Homo sapiens: one gene and its partner. The protein of the gene in region 1 interacts with the protein of each later gene in a pairwise test. Each region holds a gene or a part of one and is shown on either strand. Other genes may lie near its edges.

Region 1 (2,737 bases):
GCGCCCACCACCACGCCCAGATAATTTGTTTTTTCTTTCTTTTTTTTTATTATTATTATACTTTAAGTTTTAGGGTACATGTGCACAATGTGCAGGTTTGTTACGTATGTATACATGTGCCATGCTGGTGTGCTGCACCCACTAACTCGTCATCTAGCATTAGGTATATCTCCCAATGCTATCCCTCCCCCCTCCCCCCACCCCACAACAGTCCCCAGAGTGTGATATTCCCCTTCCTGTGTCCATGTGTTCTCATTGTTCAATTCCCACCTATGAGTGAGAATATGCGGTGTTTGGTTTTTTGTTCTTGCGATAGTTTACTGAGAATGATGATTTCCAGTTTCATCCATGTCCCTACAAAGGACATGAACTCATCATTTTTTATGGCTGCATAGTATTCCATGGTGTATATGTGCCACATTTTCTTAATCCAGTCTATCATTGTTGGACATTTGGGTTGGTTCCAAGTCTTTGCTATTGTGAATTGTATTTTTAGTGGAGATGGGGTTTCACTGTGTTAGCCAGGATGGTCTCTATCTCCTGACCTCGTGATCCGCCCGCCTCGGCCTGGGATTACAGGTGTGAGGCACTGCACCCAGCCCATGCCGGGCTAATTTTTTTTGTATTTTCAGTAGAGACAGGGTTTCACCATGTTGGCCAGGCTGGTCTCAAACTCCTGACCTCAGGTGATCCACTCATCTTGGCCTCCCAAAATGCTGGGATTACAGGTGTGAGCCACCGCACCCAGACCTTTCATGTCTTTTCTTATTAGTATCGCCATTCTGTCCCCAAAGCACAGGTATCTGTTGGTTGGGATCATGGCCAAGAGGAACAGAACTCTCACAGTTGAAACAGAAGAAAGAGTTACACAGAGTTGACCACTGGGGGAAGGGAGATGTGGTCCCACTGTGGCCTCCCCAGATGCAGCTCAGTGGCCGTCCACATGGGTACAGATGACTGTCCCTGGGCCAGCCTCACTCACCGGAGCTAGGTGTTGACAGGCAGCTGGCGTGGTTCCCTGGGACCCCAACTTCCGTGGTATCCACAGCCGTTTTACCCGTGTAAATGGTAGCCTCTTCTTGAAACTTCCCCATGTTCTTTTTATACCGGATTCTTTTGTTGCCAAACCAGTTAGAGACCTGCGGACACACAGGAGTCACTGGAGGAGCTGACCCAGCGACTTCTGAGACACGACGCAGTCTGTGGGTTCCCTGGGGTGCCCGTTGCTCCCACTGCCTTAGAAGACAACACTGCACCCTGGGGCTATGAAGAGTCTGGGACTGAGAAGGTGGCGCCCTCTGAACCACGGACCCAGGGAGATGTCCACATGGGTTGAGGACACCCTGGAGCTGGCGTGTCTTAGAACTCTGCTGCCTAAAACTGGATGTTGCTGGAACCTGAACCTGGGAAGGGGCTGGAAGGAAAACAAGACTGTCTGAGGTGGGCCGGGAGGGACAGCGCCTCTGGCTGCCATGCAGCAGGCGGCAGGTTACGTTCCGTGTTCTCTTCAGGAAAAGTGAGAGCCAGGGAGACCTGGGGACCCAGTAACTGCGATCGAATCCCAAACTTATCAAATGAAAACAAGGTGAACTCTGAAGGGGTAGTTGGAATGTACCAGGTGCTAGGATAAGCACTTCTCATATATTCATATATTTTTCTTAATTTTAATTAAAAAAAGGTTTTTTGGCCGGGCGTGGTGGCTCACGCCTGTAATCTCAGCACTTTGGGAGGCTGAGGTGGGGGGATCATCTGAGGTCAGGAGTTCGAGACCAGCCTGGACAACATGGAGAAACCCCATCTCTACTAATAATACAAATATTAGCTGGACACAGTGGCACATGCCTGTAATCCCAGCTACTCGGGAGGCTGAGGCAGGAGAATCACTTGAACCTGGGAGGCAGAGGTTGCAGTGAGCCAAGATCGCACTGCAATTTAGCCTGGGCAACAGAGTGAGACCCTGTCTCAGAAAAAAAAATATATTTTTTCTTTTTTTTTAGAGATAGGGTCTCGCTCTGTTGCCCAGGCTGGTCTCAAACCCCTGGGCTTGAGAGTTCCTCCCGCCCTGGCCTCCCAAAATGCTGGGATTCCAGGCCCAGCCTCATATATCATTCTGCCTCATCCTCATGAGGACCTGGGAGGCAGCTGTTATCGTCCCTGCTGTAAGAAAGCAGAGGCAGGAGAAAAAGGAGCTAGTCCATGGCCAAGGTGGAATCAGCCCAGCTCTGACTGCAAACTGGCACTGGAGTCCCCCAGGGAGGGGCTTGTCACCTTTGGTGGCACTGCTGATGCTTGGGCTCCATCTGCTCTGTGGGGGCTGTCCTGTACACTGCAGGGTGCTGAGCGGTATCCTTGGCACCCACTGGGTGCCAGGAGCACTTCCCTTCTCTAGTCGTGACAACAAAAATGTCCCCTGGGCAGATTCACATGGGTGAGCACCCCAGGGCCAGCGCCTTCCTACAGGCATGGAGACGTCCATCCAGGGCCACATTTCAGTATCCCAAAGCAAGTAAAATAAACGTATAGTATAATAACACACAGAAATGAAACAGCTGAGGGATGGAAGAGGATTGTGGATGACCTTTGCTACTTCAAACATTTTTTTCTCACTCTGTCACCCAGGCTGGAGTGCAGCGGTGCGATCTCAGCTCACTGCAACCTCTGCCTCCCAGATTCAAGTGATTCTCTTGCCTCAGCCTCACCAGTAGCTGGGACTACAGGCACGTGCTACCAAGCCTGG
Region 2 (3,500 bases), about 14 Mb from region 1:
AGTGGCTGAAGACTCGGGAAAGTTCCAGTAGAGACAACAGGAATCCCCTCCTCTCTACACGGAAGCTTACAGGAAGGAAATCCAAGAACTACAGAATTTATGCTGAGGCAGCAGAGCAAAACTGATGATACTGGAGAGCGCGGGCTCTGGTCTTTGTGTGTGTTCAAACCTGCCCTGGCCACTTACTTGCGGTTGGGATCCCAGATAAGACAATGTACCTCTGGCACAATGTCTTCATTTGCATATCAGGGCTGTTATTTCACCCCAGGCAGCTTCGGCAAGGATGAAATGAAATGCTGCACATGCCGTGTTTGGGGAAGTGGTTGGCACACAGGATGATTCCACACTGGCACTGGTAGCATTATTATGCTCGGAAGATTGCAAACATATTGATGCCACCTTAAAGCATAGGCCTTGGATTCAAGGACAGCTGCCAGTGCCCGGCAACGACAAATGCGTCAGAGTCTGACCCCTTTTAGGGGGTGGAATGGTTGGATCCAAGAGCTGCCTGGACGCCTGGGACACTCAAGGCAAACGCTCAGGTGCTCGGAATGCCTGAGCCCTTCTGAGGTCACAGGAAACAGGTGGGATCTGAAGGCAGGCCGAGCCGAGCAGCCAAGCCTTGCTCTCACCAGCAGGATCTACCAAGCACAGACTTGTGCTAGGCACCGAGCTTGCCACTGGAGACAGGAAAGAAATGGCAGACAAGGCCGCAGCTCTCTACTGGGAAAGAGAAAACAAACAAGTACCTGCTGTGTGCAGAGATAACTGGGTAGTTCTGGAGCTGGGTGCTGCAGAGAAAATACCACAGGATGGTGGGAGAGAGTGAGTGAATGGGTAAGGCCTCGCTGAAGCTCACACATGAAGGGTGAGCAGGGATGAGCCAGGTGAAGGCAGGGGATCCCAGGCAGAGGGGACCCCAAGTCAAAGGTTCTAAGGAAAGGAAGAGCCTGGAGGCCCATGTTTGGAGGGGAGGAGAACGGGAAGGGCTGGGTGGAGCCCACAGGACGTTCAGCCTTGCAGGCCATGCTGACAAATCTGGATTTATCCAGTGTAAAGGTTGGGGCCCAGGCTCTGGACTCTTAGGACCCAGTGGCCATCACCATCAATGCTGCAAAACATCCTCTCTCCTCTGAGCAGAGGGTAACTGCCTGTTTTCTCACCCTCTCCCCCAGAGAAAGGCAAGTTCTCAAGGACCGTTTCCACTCACGCTCTGCTCTCACAGATGCAACGCAGGAATTAATTCTGGGTAAATAAGTTCCCAAAATTCTCTGTGGCAAACCTGGGGGAGTTTAATTTAGCAAAGGCATTTTAAACTTACTGCAAAAGGCAAGGCCTGCCTTCTAAACATGTGTATGGAGTAACTACTACTGTCTCTAGAATTTCCTCCCTTTCTTTGAACACCATAAACAGCGACAGCGAAATGCAGTGCCCTACGCGGGTCAGTTTTCAGGGGTGAACGAGTGCCCATTACCTAGAGTTTACTGACTCACCGGGAAGGACAAGCATGAACTCCTAGACTCCATGGCTGGAGACAGGCGCACTGGCCCTAGCCAGCCCTACCTGCTTCCATGGCCTCGGGCTTCAGCCCCTGTGAAATGGTGCAGCCAGGACTCAGGCATCCCTGAAGGTTCTTCCCAGCCCTTACATTCTGTCAGGTCCTCACCCTGGACCAGAGGCAGTGTTAAAGGTCAAGGAAAAGACTGTTCTTCCTGAAGAGGGATATGATGTCCATTGAGGCCTACTCAGCTGCCAAAAGGCCAGAATAGAAAAATAAGGTTGGGAGGAAGGGCCTTAAACTCTAGCTGGCAATTAATTTATTCCTGGGTAGGTTCCTTTGATCCTATGACCAGTGGTTCTCACCCAGGAGTAACTTCATCTCCCTGGAGACACTGGTCAAAATCTGGAGACATTGTGACTGTCATGTTTGTGGGGGTGTGGAGGAAACTGTTACAGACATCTAGTGGATGGAGACCAGGGATGCTGACCAACATCCTAGGAGGCTCAGAACAGTGCCCTACCAGCAAGTGACCCAAGTCCAAATGTCAACTGAGCTGAGGGCAAGAAACCTTGCATTAATCTTGGGCAAAAAAATTGAGCTGGATCTCTAACTCACATTATACACCAAAATAAATCCCCAATAGATTAGATGGCACAAACCAGGGTGACCCCCCACCCTGGCTTCTGGGATTCACCGCCTCTCTCCCTCCCCACTCAGACTGTGGCTTTAAATGTGTACAGGCTCCTACGACCTCAGTAGGTTAGATAACTATGGAACACAAAGTCTCTTGGGTGTCAATGAAATCCCATAACCCAATGGTTCTCAAGTGGGGGCAATTCTGACATTAAGGGGACACTGGACAGTGTCTGGAGACCTTTTATCTTCTCATGACTGGGAGTGGATGGGTGGGATGACTGGGTGCTATGGCATCACATGAGTAGAGGCTAGAGGGGCTACCCAACATCCTCCAAAGCACAAGATGGCCACCACCAGCCCCAATGTCAAGAATACTGAGGTGGAAAAACCCTGGTATAACTCACAGGGTGCTTTCTCTCTACTCAGGCATCCAATTAGGAGAATCACAGCTAGAAGTAACTGACATGTATCTCCACATTCCAGTAGGTCAATTACCAGAAGTATATTCTCTCTCACACCACAATCCTCAGACTTGCGTATCATCGTTCCCATTTTACAGATGCAAGAGCTAAGGTCAGACAACTTGCCCATGTTTCTAGGGCAGAAGGCAAGACACAAACCAAGGACAGCCAATCCAGGTGCTTCCAACCATGCCACAAGTTGCCAATGGGAACCTGCTGGTCAGCTCTGGTTTAGAATTCTCCCGATGTTGGCAAGGCAGCGGAGAAACCCACACTGTACACTGAGGCTCTGCTAGCACATGCCAGTGGTTCTCAAATTTCCTGGTCTCGGGACCCTTTTCCACGCTTGTCAATGACTGAACATCCCCAAGAGCTTTTGGAAATGTGGGATGTAGCTACTACTGACACCATATTAGAAATGAAACCTAAGACAATTTCAAAATACTTAAGATTATAATAAACTCCAGAAAGGTTTAGTTAAATAACATATTTTTATGAAAAATAAGTATTTAAAAAAATCTGAGAAGAGTGGCATTATTTTACATTTTGACAAATGTCTTTAACGTCTGACTTAATAGAAGATAGCTGAATTCTCTCTCTTTTTTTTTTATTAAAGAGAGGGGCTTTGTTGCCCAGGCTGGCTTTGAACTCCTGGGCTCAAGAGATCCTCCCACCTCAGCCTCCCAAGTAGCTGGGACTGCAGGTGTTTGCCACTGTGCCCGGCCTGAATTCTCTTATCTGCTTCTATAGTTCATCTGTTGGCATATCACACATCCAATAACCTCTGGAAAAAAACTCCACTGTCCATTTTCAAGTGAATAAGAGTGAAAAAAGAGCAGATAGTGTCTTTGTGTTGTTATGAAATAGTTTTGAACTTGCAGTCCCCTTGAAAAGGTCTTGGG

The links. Proteins that work in one complex are often made in the same cells at the same time.
Region 2: the proteins of PBX4 (region 1) and RANBP3 interact in a two-hybrid assay, tested with the Homo sapiens proteins (one large-scale study listed by BioGRID).

Annotation. Positions count from the first base shown.
Region 1 is NC_000019.10:19,563,951-19,566,687, forward strand, and holds part of PBX4 (pre-B-cell leukemia transcription factor 4), read right to left. Parts: intron 1,140-2,737; coding exon 983-1,139; intron 1-982.
Region 2 is NC_000019.10:5,968,141-5,971,640, forward strand, and holds part of RANBP3 (ran-binding protein 3), read right to left. Parts: intron 1-3,500. UniProt on the Homo sapiens protein: Acts as a cofactor for XPO1/CRM1-mediated nuclear export, perhaps as export complex scaffolding protein. Bound to XPO1/CRM1, stabilizes the XPO1/CRM1-cargo interaction. In the absence of Ran-bound GTP prevents binding of XPO1/CRM1 to the nuclear pore complex.